Regions from separate parts of the Homo sapiens genome. Here region 1 is reported to be linked to region 2. The links are microRNA targets in miRTarBase. Many come from high-throughput screens and were not tested one by one. Region 2 holds a microRNA gene; the other region holds the end of a gene's coding sequence.

Region 1 (4,204 bases), not on the chromosome of region 2:
GGCATGGGCCGGGTACCCGGAGTTGCTGGCCATGGGGCAGATGCTGAATGTGAATATCCATTTAACTACTGGAGGGAGGCTGGAGAGTCCCACGGTGTCTACCATGATTCATTATTTGGGCCCAGAGGATTCCCTGAGGCCTAGTATTTGGCTCAGTTGGCTCAGTAACGGACACTATGATGCTGTATTTGATCACTCCTATCCTAACCCAGAGTACGACAACTGGTGCAAACAAACTCAAGTGCAAAGGAAACGCGACGAAGAACTTGCCAAATCTATGGCCATATCCTTGTCTAAAATGTATATTGAACAAAATGCATGCTCTTGAAATGTCTCAAAACCTTACACCCTGGGAATAATTGCATATATAACTTGTGTTTGGAGAATCACATGAACTTTAATCAGGGTAATAGCACTTTCAAACTTGCTAGTAGATTTTACTGTAGGTGTAATGCCTTAATCATCTTTTTGAATGTTTTCTCAGAGCTGGAGGTTGCTGGGCACCTAAATGATGTTTCATGATAGCTTTGGGTGATTTTACTGCTATTTATAATTTGCTGTATAAAGTGAGCATTACTTAATTTGCAAGCTGATTTCTCACAGTGTAAATTTGTTCATTCCTGGTAGTCTATTTTCTATAAAAATGTATTTTTGCACAACATTTTTAAAAACTGGTGTACCTTCATCTATGACGTGTTCCATTTTGACAAACAGCTTTCAGGCGTAAATCCAGAGAAGTGCTTTATATGAAATGTATTATTTTGAACAGAGTTTGTGATTTGGTAGTTATTTTATGTTGTTGAAATTTGAATTTCACAATTCTTAGATAATTATTTCAAATGGATATTGATGCATTCTTGTTACCAGATGTTTGGCCCATTCCATTTTGATGAAACAGAGCTGTTGTTTTGGAAGTCATTATTTTTCTAGAAATGGCGAATCTTTTAAAGAAAATTACTTAATGGAAGGTTGTGGGAAGGTGTTTTTTTGTGTTTTTTTTTTGGTTTTTGTTTTGTTTTTCCTCTTTTAAGGGATAGTAGCAGGTCTTACTTGAATGAAAGTCTGATATTTGCTGATGGCAGAATGATTATTCTGTACCCTGGTTGATGTGTAGAGTAGATTGTCTGGTGCTCTCAGTTGTTTTTATTTACATTTGTCACGTTGTTGTAAGAGAATGTTAACATGGTATAAAACTCTGTGACAAGATAAGCCTCCTGCTTTATATAACTTCTTGAATCCAGCTAAGAGATTTATAAACTAATGGCATAAATGTCTGGAGCCAACCTTGGCAGTTATAGCAGGAGAACACTGTCTTAATATTTCTTTACATTCTTTCAAAAGGCAAAATAGGATTGCCCTGTATTGATGTAGAAATGTCTGTAAACAGAGCTTGTATGGTTTGCTGGGTCAAACAATGTTTCCAACTTAAAATCAATCTCATTGCCACTTTAACTACTTTTAGTCATATTTATTAAGTAATGCAGTTTGTACTTTTTTTATTTTGTAACATTTTGTGATTTTTTTGTACAAAACTGTATTTGTACAATAGAGCAATTCCCAGCTGATGGAATGAATGAATAAAATGCAAAATTATACTTTTACAATGCCTTTTTGGATAGAGTGGTTTTTAAATTGTGATGTTTGTAGGAAACTTTCTTGCATGTATGCATGTACACAATTTTTTTTTTCCATAAAGATGCCACAGCAATAGAGAGGTTTCCTAAATTATCACATGAAGAGGATAGGCTAATCATGAGTAATTTCAAAGGATAAGTCTGAATAAAATATAATTTAAAAGTGGAGTAATCCAAGAAATTGCTCTCATTATTTCTAATTATAATTTCTGTCTACAGTTATAGCTGTACCTATTGGCTAATGAAAAAGGAAGTGCAAGTTTTGTGTCAGCCAGCAGAATGTCTAATTAAATGTCATACTTTTGTATTCCACTCACTCTCAGTATAGAGTTTAACGTTTTAGAGAGTAACCAAAGAGATGCCCTAATTTTTGTCTAGTCTGGCCTCTTGAGACCACGGGAATCTGTTTTAAGATGTTGAAAAGTGCATGCTATAGTTTGAATATATGTGTCCCACCACCCCAAATTCATGTGTTCGTCCCCATTATGGTGGTATTAAGAGGTTGGGCTTTTGGGGAAGTGATTTAAGGCATGAGCGCTCTGTCTTCATGAATGAATTAGTTGCCTTTTATAAAAAGGTCTGGAAGCAACTAGCTTAGGCCCATTTTGCTGTTCTGTTGTTCTGCCACAGGAGGACACCTAGATGGTGTCATCTGTGAGGAAGGGGCCTCCGCCTGATGTGGAACCTGCGAGCACCTTGATCTTGGGCTTCCCAGCCAACAGACTGTGAGAAATACAAATTTCTGTTCTTTATAAATTATAGGTATTTTGTTGCAGTAGCACAAATGGACTAAGTTGGTGCACCTGTGTGCATAATGTTGGGGTATGTGTAATGCATAAGAAAAGCAGCTATTTTGGATATTTTACTTTTCAGTTATTTAGACATCACAGTCATAGACACAACTGAACTTGATTGAGTTCATTGGTTAACCACATTCTTGGAAGGATGCCGTTGAATATCAAGGAAAGAATTTGTCAACGGTTTAAATGTTTACTAATCACAGATCTCTGGATTTTTGTGTAGGTAAGTTTTGCTTCATGGCTTCAGTAAGTAATTTGGGAAGAAAGAAATTCTATTATTTGAATTACCTGGCTACCCCTTTTCTCCACTTTATTTAGAGCTGTATAACATTTGGAGATGCTTAAAATTTTATACAAGTATGAGTAGAACACACAAGAATTCCTAAAAAGCCTTCTGTAAGCCTATTACTGTTTTAGGTAGCTTACTCTGTGTTCTGTTTCATTTTCAAATTAGGATTCCAAGTCCTGATTTCTTTTCTTTTTTCTTACGTTTTTATTGAGACAGGGTCTCCCTCTGTCACCTAGGCTAGAGTGCAATGGCACAGTCATGGCTCACTGCAGCCTCAACCTCAGAGCTCAAGTGATTCTCCCGAATACCTCAGCCTCCTAAGTAACTGGGGCTACAACGGTCGTCCAGCATCACACCCAGCTAATTTTTAAAAAAATTTTTTAGTAGAGATGTAGTCTCACTATGTTGCCTAGGCTGGTCTTAAATTCCTGAGCTTAAGTGATCCTCCTGCCTCAGCCTCCCAAGGTGGTGGGATTACAGGCATAAGTCACCCTGCCCAGTCCTGTTTTTAAATTTAATTTTAACATTTTGTTTATTATTTTTGAGACAGGGTGTTGTCGTGTCCCCCAGGCTGGAGTGCAGTGGCACAATCATGGCTTACTGCAGCCTCTACCTCCTGGGCTCAAGTTAGCCTCTCACCTTGGCTGCTGAGTAGCTGGGACTATAAGCATGTACCACCATGCTCAGCTAATTTTTTATTATTCATAGAGGTCGGTGGGGCGGGGGTTCGCCCTGTGTTGCCCAGGCTGGTCTTGAACTCCTGGCCTCAGGCAATCCTCCCACCTCAGCCTCCCAAAGTGCTGGGATTACAGGTGTGAATCACACACTCAGCCTTGAAAAAGAAAATCTGGAGATAATTTCATTACTTTGTTCAAGTTTATCTTATGTGCTTTTCCTAAAAAAAAAGTTATACAATTTTTTTCCAAGTTTTGCATTTTGAGAATCATTAGCACTTTACCATGACATTTAGTGCTCATGTGGAAGAAAGGCATTAGGGAAGAAAAATAGATTGTAATCCTTTGGACGTTTGATAATTTGATATGTAGGTAAATGTACTGGATAAATTCAAGTATGTAGCATGTTCACATTAAATAGTTATTTGTTACATCCTAAGTTCAGATGTCATTTTTTTGTACATCCCTAGAATGTCTATCTCAAAGAGGCACTGAGAAACTAGATGACATTTAATTCAGTTTGATTTCCCAAATTTACTAAGCTCAATAGGCACATTCCCTGTTGAATCCCTGGGTTCAAACCCAAGTACCTAGCAGAGCGAGTGCTCAGTAAATTGCTTTTTTCTTTTTTTTTTTTTAGACAGAGTCTTGCTTTGTCGCCCAACCTGGAGTGCAATTGTGTGGTCTTGGCTCAGTGCAACCTCCACCTCCCGGGTTCAAGCAGTTCTCCTGCCTCAGCCTCCCGAGTAGCTGGGATTACAGGTGCCTGCCACCATGCCCAAGTAATTTTTTGTATTTTTATTTATT
Region 2 (4,431 bases):
GACACTTATACAAAAATTAACTCAAGATGCATTAAAGATTTAAACGTGAGACCTAAAACCAGAAAAATCCTAGAAGAAAACCTAGGCAACACCATTGAGGACGTAAGCATGGGCAAAGACTTCATGACTAAAACACCAAAAGAAATGGCAACAAAAGCCAAAATTGACAAAAGGTATCTAATGAAACTAGAGAGCTTCTGCACAGCATGACTGTATTTCAGTGCACGTTTACCACCGAGCTCTTAACGCTCCACCACTGTCCTGTGTCATTAGGATCCCAGCTCTGCAGCCATTCCTCTAGTTGGGCCTGGGTCGGCTCTGGGATGCCGCGGGGGGGCCGGTCGGCGGCGGAGGGGCCAGTGGGGACCCGGGGCAGGGGCGGAGACCCCTCCCACTGCACATCCCACTGCCTGGGTATCTGGCCCCCAACCGGCCTGCCCGCTGCTCCCACCTCCCATGGTGGGTCGGGGGCTGAGGGCTGGGGACTGGGGCAGGGTACCCCAAATATCTCTCGGTGGCGATCGCTCAGTCCGTGCAGTCCATCCAGCTCCTGCATTGTCCGTCCTACCAATAACCTCTCACTTGCAATTCTCAGCCCCTTCCTGCATTGTCTCCCTGTGAGACCTACTAGAACCCCCGCCTTTCACACTGCTGACCTGCTGGGGGAAAATGCACAGAGGCAGAGACGAGGCCACGCGGGAGTCCTGATCTCTAACCCCAGCCGGTCTCAGGCCTTGCCGAGGCAACGCTGCTTCCCCAGACACTCTCCCTTTCCCATTCTTTTTTTTTTTTTTTTTTGAGTTGGAGTCTCGCTTTGCCACCCAGTCTGGAGTGCAGCGGCGCGATCTCAGCTCACTGCACCCTCCACCTCCTGGGTTCAAGCGATTCTCCTGCCTCAGCCTCCCAAGTAGCTGGGATTACAGGCACACACCACCATGCCTGGCTAATTTTTGTATTTTTAGTAGAGATGGGGTTACACCATGTTGGCCAGGCTGGTCTCAAATGCCCGACTTCAGGTGATCCACCCGCCTCGAGCTCCCAAAGTGCTGGGATTACAGGCGTGAGCCATCGCGCCTGCCTTTACTTTCCCATTCTTAACGCCTCCCGTTTCAGACCTGTCCCCTTTTCCCCGCATTTCTGACTGTCACGGCACATCACAACCAGCAGACAGGGCTTCCCCTATTTCACAGGAGAAATAGAAGCCATCAGATGGGACCTCCTTCAAAGTCCTGCCACCAAACCTCAGCATGTACCTGGACCCACATGTATCCTCTTTTCCTTTGGGATTGAATTAGAGAGGTGCCGCTCGAAACCCGCTCCTGGGTGGGAGTCTTGGCTCTATCAGTTATGCCTCTATTCTGTATGTTTAACCTCGCCCTCGTAGGGGCATAAAACAGCATTTAAACAGGATCAAGCTTTCCATTTTAAAACTCCATACACTCCCTTAATTTCATCTCCTCCTCCACCTACTGCCCCATGTCTCTCCCTCTTCCTGGCTAAACGTCTCAAAAAAGTGGATACACTTTCTGTCAACTCCTAAACACTCCTCACGCTCATTTGGCCTCTGCTCCTCCCTTCCTCCTCCCACTTCATTGGAACTACTTCTGCCAAAGAGGATCCCTGAGTCAGCCTGACTGGTAACCCCAATGGACTCTACTCAATATGCAACATCCTTCACTTCTTAGCAGAGTTTGAAACAGCCTGACTCTCCTCTTCTGGCAACATTCTTTTCCTTGGTTTGGGGACGCTGTACTGTTCTGGTTTTGCCCCTCCCTCCGAGCATTCCTTGTGTTTGTCCTGGCCCATTTTCTCCTCTCATTCTACATCCTCTCCCCGGGGATTTTAGCTTCTCTCACGGCTCAGGTTACCATCTCCATAGTGATGACTATCAAATTCTGTACCTCATTTCCAGAGGCTCCTGACAGACTTGCTTGGTCAATATACTACTGGACATATTCATGAGACTGTCTCACACAGGCATCTCGAACCCAGTGTGTCCCACAATTCTCTTCCTATCCATGCCTGTTCCTCTTCCACTGCCTCATATGTCGGTGACTGTCCACCTTCTCTCTCTCTCCCCCTCTCCGTTTGGCTCATAGGAAAAGTGTCACCAAGGGCTGTAAGTGCAGATTTCTAATTATCCCCTAAATTTGAACATTTTTCCTCTCGAAAGTGTATGGCCATTACCCTATTACAGATCAACATCTTCAATCACTGGAATGATGGCAATAATCTAATTGGGTTCATTTTATCCTCTATCTAACAATGACAACTCATTGCCTACACAGCAGGTAGAAGGAGTTTGTTTTCAGAATTGCCCTCTGACCTATTTAAGACGCTCAGATATTCCCTGAGGCTCCTTGGCCTGGCCACAAAGGCCCTACACATTCTGGCTGCTTCCTCCTTTCCAGCATCCTCTCTCACGTCTCCTCTCCTCAGTTCCACCCTCAGGAGGCACCAGAATTCCTCACTTCTTTGACTACAAGGCACCGTCTTACTCCCAAGACCAGTGAATCCGAAGGTGGACCACCAGCTGAGGGACTAGATTCCAGACTGAATAGAACAACTTTCCCTGTCTCTCCACATAAAGTGTGTTTGTTTTTCCTCTTACAGGTTTCCTTAATGACAACAAAAAAGGGAGTAATCCTACCCACTGTAAGAGTCATGACTCTTGATTGCAGCTGACAGAAACTCATGACAGCCTGCTTTAGATGAAGGGGGAGAGAAGGACTGGAAGAATCTTGGAGTTGGGAATGTCACACGTAATTGAAGGAAGAACAAGAAAACTATAGTAAAGAACCCTGGGGTGGTGATGTAGTCATGGGCCAAGTGTCCTGGAACCCTGGGGTGGTGATGTAGTTGTGGGCCAAGTGTCCTGGAACCCTGGGGTGGTGATGTAGTCATGGGCCAAGTGTCCTGGAACCCTGGGGTGGTGATGTAGTTGTGGGCCAAGTGTCCTGGGTTTTGGGTGGAGAAAGAGTCCCCTAGATAAGTTATTAGGTGGGTGCAAAGGTAATTGCAGTTTTTCCCATTATTTTAATTGCGAAAACAGCAATTACCTTTGCACCAACCTGATGGAGTCCCCCTTGCCATGCTTCTCTCTGTGAAAAACCCCAAGCCGAAGTCAGCATAACATCCACAGGACTCTATGTTTGCAAAAGCCAGCTTAGCTATATTACATGTATAAGCACATTTTTTCAATAAGTCAGCCTTAGCTTACTGTAACTTTTTAACTTTATAAACTTAGTATTTTAACTTTTTAAACTTTTTTGTTGAAAACTAAGACACAAAAACACATGTTAGCCTAGATCCACACAGGGTCAGGGTCATCAGTATCACTGTCTTCCACCTCCACATTTTGTCTCTCTGGAAGGTCTTCAGGGGCAATAACACACATGGAGCTGTCATCGCCTGTGGTAACAATGCCTTCTACAGTACTTCCCAAAGGGCCTGCTAGTTCACTTAATTCTTTTATAGAGAGAAGGAGTACACTCTAAAACACTGATCAATAGTATATTATAGTAAATACATAAACCAGGAACACATTTATTATCATTATCACGTATTGTGTATTGTACAGAATGGTGTGTGCTGTGCTATCCAGGAACACATTTATTATCATTATCAAGTATTGTGTACTGTACAGAATGGTGTGCGCTGTGCTTTTATGCAAGTGGCAGCACAGTAGCTTTACACGAGCATCACTAGACACATGAGTAGCATTGCACTCGGCAACAGGAATTTTTTCAGGCCCATTATTATAATCTTATGGGACCGCATCCTATATGCAGTTTGTCATTGACCAAAATGTCCTTATGCGATGCATGACTATATTTGCAAAGGACTAGTATCTAGAATACATTTAAAAGTCTTAAAATAGTAACAAAACAAAGAATGCAATTAGAACATGAGCAAAAGATACAAAGCAACATTTCACTGGAGAAGATATACAGATTGCAAATAAGCACATGAAAAGATGTTTGATACCATTAGGGAAACGCTTCTTTAAACCAGGAGATATCACCACGTGTTAGAATCAACAAAATAAGGCCAGGCATGGTGGCTCACACCTGTAATCCCAACACTTTGGGAGGCTGGGGCAGGCAGATCACATGAGATCAGGAATTCAAGACCAACCTGGCCAACATGGCAAAACCCTGTCTCTGCTGAAAACACAAAAATTAGCCAGGTGTGGTGGCACACGCCTGTAGTCCTAGCACCTTGGGAGGCTGAGGCAAGATAATTGCTTAAACCCAGGAGACGGAGGTTGCAGTAAGCTGAGATCATGCCACTGCGCTCCAGCCTGGGCGACAGAGCAAGATTATGTCTCAAAAAAAAAAAAAAAAAAAAGAATCACCAAAATAAAAAATAGTAACAATACTATTGTCAAGGATGCAAAGGAACTGTACCACTCAATCACTGCTGTGAGAA

What was found. Region 2 holds the annotated microRNA hsa-miR-570-3p (CGAAAACAGCAAUUACCUUUGC, at 3,044-3,065, shown strand). A microRNA usually pairs through its seed, bases 2 to 8, with sites in the 3' UTR of a target mRNA and lowers its output. Matches are read on the target gene's strand: a 7mer-m8 pairs with bases 2 to 8, a 7mer-A1 pairs with bases 2 to 7 and ends in A, and an 8mer does both.
Region 1: the mRNA of OTUD1 is a reported target of hsa-miR-570-3p. Seed matches in the 3' UTR shown: 7mer-m8 at 474-480.

The regions. Positions count from the first base shown.
Region 1 is chr10:23,440,576-23,444,779 of GRCh38, forward strand. It overlaps OTUD1 (OTU deubiquitinase 1), which reads left to right. Exons shown (of 1, transcript NM_001145373.3): 1 at 1-1,802. The coding sequence ends at 328. Among named protein-coding and RNA genes, the nearest start is that of OTUD1, 3.6 kb to the left of the region's middle.
Region 2 is chr3:195,696,417-195,700,847 of GRCh38, forward strand. MIR570 (microRNA 570) reads left to right here and starts at 2,985; the gene lies at 2,985-3,081. All of the region lies in intron 2 of MIR570HG (MIR570 host gene), which reads left to right. LOC124909477 (a long non-coding RNA gene) reads left to right here and starts at 129. Exons shown (of 2, transcript XR_007096227.1): 1 at 129-173; 2 at 2,614-2,654.